3 separate regions of the Homo sapiens genome follow, and all the other regions are linked to region 1. Evidence: fine-mapped expression QTL. A gene starts in region 1. Each other region holds a variant in brackets. All regions are shown on one strand. Distances are between the middles of the regions. Region 1 holds the start of PRPF6 (pre-mRNA processing factor 6). Region 2 overlaps PRPF6 (pre-mRNA processing factor 6). Region 3 overlaps RGS19 (regulator of G protein signaling 19).

Region 1 (2,754 bases):
TTACCGCCCACCCCACTGTGAACATCAGGGTGGTTCTCCCTTCCCTCTGCAGCCCCAGAACCTGGCTCAGTGCCCGGGGGAGAGGGGGCGGTACAGTGCTCTGTAACTGAAAGGGGCTTGGCTTGCCTGGAGATGGGGCAGAGGGGAACTCCAAGGAGGCTGTAGCAGGCCGGAGCGGTGTGTTTGCTCCAGGACTCCAGTGAGAAGTGCTGAGATGGGGCTGGGCTAGGGAACTGTGGTTGCCTGGTGCAGCAGCAGGCCAGGCTTGCAACCAGCTATTCGGCTTGCTCTGCCCAGGAGCCTGGGTGCTCTCCCTGGGTGTATGTAGGGGCTCTGGAGGATGTCTTACAGCAGGAGGACCAGAGATGCACACAGACATGTAGAAATGCATGCACAGAGTACAGTCATGCACTTGCACCCAAAACACGAGCACACGTGACCTCTGTGCACACACCCCACTAATCACACACACAGAATTCACCCACATGCTTGACAGCCATGTTCATGTACTGACGTGTTCCCGACAGCTCAGCTGCGGTTATTTATTTCGTCAATTAGCTCTCCAGGAGCTAAGGATGTGGCCCTCACCAGAATGTCCAAGGCATGTTGGCGGGCGTGGGTGGGGTCTCTAGTCCCACTGGAGGGACAGATGCCTGAATGGGGGTTCAAGAATATGAGTGCTAAAAGCGTAGGGCAGCAGTGTGCGCACAGGACGCACACAGACAGGTGTGCCCATAACCAGTACACACAAGCTCTACACAACTGGACAGGGTACAGCTCTGCTCGGACAGGGCGCACCAGGGGCGAGGGCGGGCAGCTGGGCTGGTTCAGAGGGAGGGGGCCATGGGTTCAGAGGGAGGGGACCATGGGTCCCACTCTCACAGACAGGTCTCCGGACTGCATCAGAGCACTCGGGAAGCAGCAATGCCCCAGGCTGTTTTTAGCCCCCAGGGGCCAGTTAGGGTCCCAGTGCAAGCTCGACCTAGCTTCTTCCGCCTCTCCACGAGGAGGCGCTCCCGCGCACGCGCCTACCACGTTCCTGCCCCCTAGCCGCGGCCGGAAGTCGTCGAACCAGGACGTCGGGACTTCCGCCCAGGGAATCAAAAGTGGGCGGGGCGTGTGCGGACTGAGCGCTCTGCTTCCGGGGCGCGGGTGACGCGACGACGGCGACACTTTGCTACGGAGTGCATCGGACGTCGAAGCCTAGAGTCTCTGCGTCTTTCCCTCTTCCGCTGCCTCATTCCTTTCCTTCCTAGCCTTGGTCGTCGCCGCCACCATGAACAAGAAGAAGAAACCGTTCCTAGGGATGCCCGCGCCCCTCGGCTACGTGCCGGGGCTGGGCCGGGGGTGAGGCCTGGGGCGGCGCGCGAGGGGCGGGGACCCGGCTACAGGAGCGCAGTGCTTTGGGGCGTGTTTGGGGGCGGGGGTCTATGGCCGCGCAGTCTGAAAGACGCTTGGTGGATCGGCTTAATCCCTGCAGGAAGCAACGGGCTTTGGGGTCAGGACATACCTGTGTGTGCACCCTGCTTGCCGCCTAGATGTGACACATTGACTCTCAGCCCAGTGTTTTGGTCTGTAAGATGGGTAATGCTGTATACGGTCTGCAGTGAGGAGTAGAGGAATCTGACGTGTAGTGGAAACACGCGACCACCTTCCTCAGGTCGGGCTGACACTCCCCCCCCCCGCCCGCCCGCCCGCCCCGCCTTAAGCGTGCCTGGGTCCTCTATGCCTGCAACACAGATGACCACCGTGCGTTGCTGGATAAGTGAGCAGTCGTTATTATCCTATTTGGCTATTCATTTGATGAGGAACACTACTGGGTTTTTCTTGGTGGTGGTATTATATTGGAATCTGTGGGGCACACACAAGCTCACTAAGGAGGGTTTGCTATTACCATAAATAAGTACGTAAAGAGGACCAGATTTAGAACCCAGTGCTTAATGGAGAGTAGCATTGGAGCCAAGTTTAGTAAGAGAGCTGGACTTAGGGCTGTAGAAACGGTGACGATAGAAGAGAAACTGACATTCTGCGTGTGGGAGTTCAAAAAAAGTGAGGCAAGGAGGAAGCCCAGGGAACAGGAGGGAGTCCAGTGTGAGTGGAATGTACAGCGAATAGAATAGAGCTCAGGAGGTTGGAGGGGCCTTGAGCGTCAGGCTAGAGCTCCTGGAGACGTTAGAAAGATCATGACCCTTCAGAATTATTATTATTATTATTATTTTTTGAGACAAAGTCTTGTTCTGTCGCCCAAGCTGGAGTGCAATGGTGCGATCTCAGCTCCCTGCAATCTCTGCCCCCCGGGTTCAAGCAGTTCTCTGCCTCAGCCTCCTGAGTAGCTGGGATTATAGGTGCCCGCTACCACGCCCGGCTAATTTTTGTATTTTTAGTAGAGACAGGGTTTCACCATGTTGGCCAGGGGGGTCTTGAACTCCTGACCTCATGATCCACCCGCCTCCGTCTCCCAAAGTGCTGGGATTACAGGCGTGAGCCACCACGCCCGGCCCAGAATTTTTTACTCAGAGCTGTGTTTTGGGAAGAATCATCTGGCAGAGCATGGGTTGAAGTAGAGGAAGGCTAAAGGCAGGGAGAGGTAACTTGGTTTCCAGCTGTGATGGGAGTCATAGTCTGGGAAGGAGGGATTTTGAAAGTGGATTCATTAGTACTTGGGGACAGACAGGATGGGGAAAGTGGGAGAGGGAGGCAAAAATTACATCATGGTCCCGTGGCATCTGGGACAGCTGTTATCAGCTGAAACCC
Region 2 (2,754 bases), 49 kb after region 1:
GCACCTTTCCGGAACCAGAGGCTGGAGTGCAAATCTTTGTTCTTTGTTTCTGAATTATAGGTATCCTGTGGTCTGAGGCCATCTTCCTCGAGGCAAGGCCCCAGAGGAGGACCAAGAGCGTGGATGCCCTGAAGAAGTGTGAGCATGACCCCCATGTGCTCCTGGCCGTGGCCAAGTGAGTGGGGCCCCCACAGGATTGCTGAACCTCGGGGTCCTAATGGGCTCTTTTTCCAGAGTCTGTCTGCCTCTTCCTGGTCATTGTAAAGATGCCCGGCAGCAGGGTGGGCTTCCCCGATCCTCGGCTGCCGTCGCTCCTGCTGTGGTCTGGGGCAGGCGCCTCTCCTGGCAGACACACCTGAGGGTGCCGTGGTCAGAGACTCACTGGGGACGCATGTGATTCACACTGGTGCGCTGGCCGCCGGGTCACAGACTCACTGGGGACGCGTGTGATTCACACTGGTGCGCTGGCCGCCAGGTCAGAGACTCACCGGGGACGCATGTGATTCACACTGGTGCTCTGGTCGCCGGGTCAGAGACTCACTGGGGACGCATGTGATTCACACTGGTGCGCTGGCCGCCGGGTCAGAGACTCACTGGGGACACATGTGATTCACACTGGTGTGCTGGCCGCCGGGTCAGAGACTCACTGGGGACGCGTGTGATTCACACTGGTGCGCTGGCCGCTGGGTCAGAGACTCACTGGGGACGTGACTCTGGAACCTTGCAGGCAGCAGCGGGTAGCCATGGGGCAGAGCATGCAGACTCTAGGCACATGTGGGCAAAGACCCGCCAGGTGTGGGGCACAGCAGGGAGCTCAGGGCCATCCCCGACCCCCAGGGTCCCTGTTTCCTTCTAGAAAGAGGATGACAGTCTGGGAAGGAGCTGGGCCTGAGTGTGGGTCAGGAGGCTGGGAAGTGACCATGTGGGGTGAAGGGAGTTCTTGGAAGAACCCTGGGTTCCTGAGGCTGCAGCTCAGGACGTGGGCTCACCTGGCAGAGGTGGCGTGTCTGGCCCCAGGAGCTCTCCTGTGTCCGGCTTCCCCTCCACCTGCCCCGCCATGGGTCATGCAGAGACAACAGCCTTCCTAGTGCTGGCTTTTGATTCTCTCCATCCCTTCTCCCCAGCACTGGGTGGCAGTGGTGCTTGGTCTCCAGAGGTCTGGGTGCCGCCCCCACAGGCTTGCCTGTAGGGGCACCTCCTCTCCCCTGCCCGCAGGCCCCCGACAGATGAGAGAGGCTCCCCACAGGGAGGCTTGTGTCTGCCTGGTGCTACCTTGGTCCTGCCCTGTGCGTTCACCTCCCAGAGTGACTTCTGGGTGACACTCTGATAGTGCAGCCATAAAACCTTATAAAAGGCTT[T/C]GCTAAAGTAAATAAGTCACTCCTTGCTATTCCCAAGCCAGTGTTTTGTGTGTCTGCTATCTGGGTTTGTGCTCTTTAAATCACAGTTTATCTAACACCGGGCAATTAAGAATACCACAAGGCTTAAAAAACAATCAGGTTATCAGAGTGTGAAATTATTCCGTTTGGCAACTGAGACGAACCCGAACAGCTGCCCGGAGTGGAGGCTCCTCGTGTTGTCTCTTGACTACGGTGCCTCTGGCTCCAGGGGGAGGTGACCCTGAGGAGAGGGTGGCAGCAACGCAGAGTCCCGGGCCTGCCAGCATGCTCAGCAGCCAGCGCCCGCCATCCCTTCTCCAGCAGCGGGTGGGGGTGCCATGCACACCCTTACCTGGCCTCTCATAGCATGGACCTCTTCGGGCCCGGTTTTTCAGGTGTGCATGTGTCTGGCAGGCACGGCGGTGTGAATCCAGTGGCCTGAGGGCTGTGGGCTGCAGGCCCAGGCCCTTGTGCTGCCTGGAGCCCATCTTCTCAGTGTTCACTGGGGTTGCTGCTGGAGGCCGGGTGGGGCAGGATGATCCAGCAGGTGTCTCAGTGAGGAGCTGAAACTGTATAACTTTCCCTCATCAAAGTTGCAGTTTAATTTTGTGTCAGGTTTAGTTTCATCTCCTTGTATCTGACCCTAATTTTACGGAGTTGGAAGATCTTTCCCTGCGTGTGAATTTTTTAAGAAACAGTTTGGGACAGGTGCGGTGGCTCATGCCTATAATCCCAGCACTGGGAGGCTGAGGCAGGTGGATCATGAGGTCAGGAGTTTGAGACCACCCTGACCAACACAGTGAAACCCCATCTCTACTAAAAATACAAAAATTAGCCGGGTGTGGTGGCGCATGCCTGTAATCCCAGCTACTCAGGAGGCTGAGGCAGGAGAATCGCTTGAACCTGGGAGGCAGAGCTTGCAGTGAGTCGAGATCGCGCCACTGCACTCCAGCCTGGGCGACAGAGCGAGACTCCTTCTCAAAAAAAAAAAAAAAAAAACAACAAAAAAAAACCAATTTGGTTAGACCCGTGAAGGGCAGCTTCAAGTTAATGATCTGGGGTAATTATTTCTGGATCAGCCGAGGCCCTGATCCTCAGGCCTTCTTGAGGGGAGCACCAGGGCTGCGGGTCAGGGATGAAGCTGATGGCCCTGAAGCCGTTCCCCTGCCCCAGAATACCGTCCTGCAGCCACTCACTCTGGGTTCACGTCCTTCTGCTGGAACAGGCTGTTTTGGAGTCAGCGGAAGATCACCAAGGCCAGGGAGTGGTTCCACCGCACTGTGAAGATTGACTCGGACCTGGGGGATGCCTGGGCCTTCTTCTACAAGTTTGAGCTGCAGCATGGCACTGAGGTGAGGCCCCTCGACAGACCGCCGCT
Region 3 (2,727 bases), 94 kb after region 1:
CCCCTGCAGCAGCAGGGCACGGTAGGTGGGAGAGCTGAGGAAGCGGGGGTAGGAGTCCCGGTGCATGAGCGTGTAGATCTGCAGCTGCGCGTCGTCGAACGTGTGTGCGGACGGCTCCTGCATCTTCTTGTTGATGCCCTCCCGCACACGGGAGTCCAGGCTCACCTGCAGGACAAGACACTGAGGTCAGGGGGTGCGGGAGCTGCCTTCCCCACCTAGTGCCTGGAGCAGGCGGCCCCCGGCCTGTTCTGGTGTCTGGCGCACCTCCTTGGGGGACAGGATGGATACGTAGTCCTCGTAGATGAGCCTCGCCTTCTCGTCTACCACATGCTGGTTGGCCTCGGCCTTCAGCTCCTCGCAGGCCAACCAGAAGAGCATGTTCTCCTCGCTGTACTCTGTCCGCAGGAACGCCCGGAACACGCTGCGTCCCGCTGGGCTGTGCATCAGCTTGTCAAAAGACTGCGCCCAGCTCTGCACCTCCTCAGGACTTGGCGTGGCACTGTGGGCACGGGGGCCAGGCTATGTCAGGCCCGAGTCTCCCGGTCTGGGGCCCCCCCAGCACGCACACACCAGCCGGCTGGACTCACCATACTTCACAGCTGGGGAGGGGCTGCAGCTTGCTCTCCCGGGAGGCCTGCCACGCGCGCCGCCGCTCTTGGTTCCTAGTGGCAGAGAGGAAGCAGCGCTGCCGTGGGCACACACGCCTCCACGGCCACACAGGCCCTCAGCACATGGGCAGGCACCTGACACACATGGGCACCCACTGCAGGAGGGCAGCCCCTGCAGGCACCTGACACACATGGGCACCCACTGCAGGAGGGCAGCCCCTGGAGCTGGCTCTTCCCACACTCTCCCACACTCCCAAATTCCCCACAGAATCTGCAGTCCAGGTTACTGTCCCTGCCACAGTGCCCAGACCACAGACTCTGCCGTCTTCCATTCCAGCAGTGTGACCCAGTGCCCGCGAGTCTCTGGCCTTCCAGGAGGGGCCCTTCGGCTCCTGGTGTGCTCCTCCCCATCCCTGGCCCACTGGGCAACCTCCTCCACCCACCCATGCCCACCCCACATGAGGTTGAGAAGCAGGTATGCCACCTCCCCTTCTGCCTCTGCTCCCCTGGGGGAGATGGGGTGGGGCAAGATGAGGGGCCACAAGGAGCTGGGAGATCCCTGAACACCTGGGAGGCCAGAAGGGTCATGTGCCTGGGAACAGGGCCACCCATGGGAATGTGCCTGGGAACAGGGCCACCCATGGGAATGTGCCTGGGAACAGGGCCACCCATGGGAATGTGCCTGGGAACAGGGCCACCCTGCTCCTGGGCCTGATCTTGGCCTGTCCCTGTCCCACCGATGGGGTCACACGCTGCAGGTCTGGCGTGTCAGCAGTGTCTCTCGTCGGCTGACGCAGGTGAGAGCCCCAAACCCGTGTCCACACTCCTTCAGGTTCTGGAGCCTGATCCCCGGTTGTCTCAAGGGAAGCAGCTTCTTTGCCTTGGCTCCTAGCATCCTGTCAGTGC[T/C]GGACCCAAATCCATACCCGGCTGACCTCTCTCCAGGGCACTTGGATGGCTGGCAGACATCGTGCACCCAAACGTCCTGACAGAACTAGGCCCCTGGGCTCCTCCCACCCCCTTTCCCGACTGCCCCCTGGCCACCCCCAGCTTGCCCGTGGGTCAGCTGACGCCACCTTGGATCCAGAAGCGCTGTCCTCTCATCAGCCAGGGCCTGAAGCCTGAATAGGGCCAGGCTTCTGCAAGGTGTGAAAACATCCACCAGCTCCCCTACACTCCTAGGAAATCTGTTACCATCTGGGAGCCCCACTCCCACCCTCACAGGGATGCCCAGAGACGTCCCCGCCACCGCCCCCTGCTCTTCTTCCCCCACGCATGCTGTCCGGGAAGCTCTTGGCCATCGCCCCAGGGCCAGCAGTTCCCTTATTGGGGTCTCTGTTCAAACGTCCCTCCACCCCACACACTGTATGGGGTCTGTGCCTGTCTTTCTTTCTTTCTTTCTTTTTTTTTTTTTGAGACGGAGTTTTGCTCTTGTTGCCCAGGCTGGAGTGCAATGACGCGATCTCGGCTCAACGCAACCTCCGCCTCCCAGGTTCAAGCCATTCTCCTGCCTCAGCCTCCCGAGTAGCTGGGATTACAGGCATGCGCCACCACGCCTGGCTAATTTTGTATTTTTAGTAGAGACAGGGTTTCTGCACATTGGTCAGGCTGATCTCGAACTCCCGACCTCAGGTGATCCGCCCACCTTGCCCTCCCAAAGTGCTGGGACTACAGGCATGAGCCACTGCACCTGGCCTGTGCCTGTCTTACTCCACCGCAGGCCCCCAGGGCCTAGCCTGGGCTGGCTCACAGCAGCATGGATAAAGCACATGCCGCGTGAACGGGCACATGCATGTACACAGCACACGGACACACCCTTGGCAAGACAGGTACGAGAGCCATACATGAGCTCCCTGGGGCCAAGGCACCGGCCACTCATCACCAGGGCCCAACAGACCCTGGACAGGACAGTGCTGTGAGGTGGCAGGGGCATCCTGCCTGCGGGGATGCCTCGGAAGCCACCACTGGGTCCCCTCCTGGGTCTGCTTGGCCCCATGCCCTCGACCCCCTCGCCAGCTGGGCACCCCAGGCCCTACTCACCAGGAGCAGCTACAGCAGCAGCACCAGCACAGGCAGCAGGGGTTGCGGCTGGGGGCCGCTGGAGAGGCTGTATCATGACTGG

Evidence for each region. PIP is the estimated chance that this variant, and not a neighbour inherited with it, causes the effect.
Region 2: its variant is fine-mapped to the expression of PRPF6 in visceral fat (GTEx, PIP above 0.99). The same link has a PIP of 0.9 or more in tibial artery and unexposed skin.
Region 3: its variant is fine-mapped to the expression of PRPF6 in whole blood (TOPMed, PIP above 0.99).

The regions. Positions count from the first base shown.
Region 1 is chr20:63,979,970-63,982,723 of GRCh38, forward strand. It overlaps PRPF6 (pre-mRNA processing factor 6), which reads left to right and starts at 1,163. Exons shown (of 21, transcript NM_012469.4): 1 at 1,163-1,347. The coding sequence starts at 1,277. It also overlaps a transcript of SAMD10 not described here. RefSeq lists an enhancer at 218-277 and a silencer at 1,348-1,457.
Region 2 is chr20:64,029,317-64,032,070 of GRCh38, forward strand. It overlaps PRPF6 (pre-mRNA processing factor 6), which reads left to right. Exons shown (of 21, transcript NM_012469.4): 19 at 61-175; 20 at 2,602-2,728. Among named protein-coding and RNA genes, the nearest start is that of C20orf204, 5.5 kb to the right of the region's middle. The variant T/C (reference allele first, on the strand shown) is at 1,359.
Region 3 is chr20:64,073,880-64,076,606 of GRCh38, forward strand. It overlaps RGS19 (regulator of G protein signaling 19), which reads right to left. Exons shown (of 6, transcript NM_005873.3): 3 at 2,646-2,727; 4 at 588-662; 5 at 265-499; 6 at 1-165. Among named protein-coding and RNA genes, the nearest start is that of MIR6813, 1.8 kb to the right of the region's middle. The variant T/C (reference allele first, on the strand shown) is at 1,515.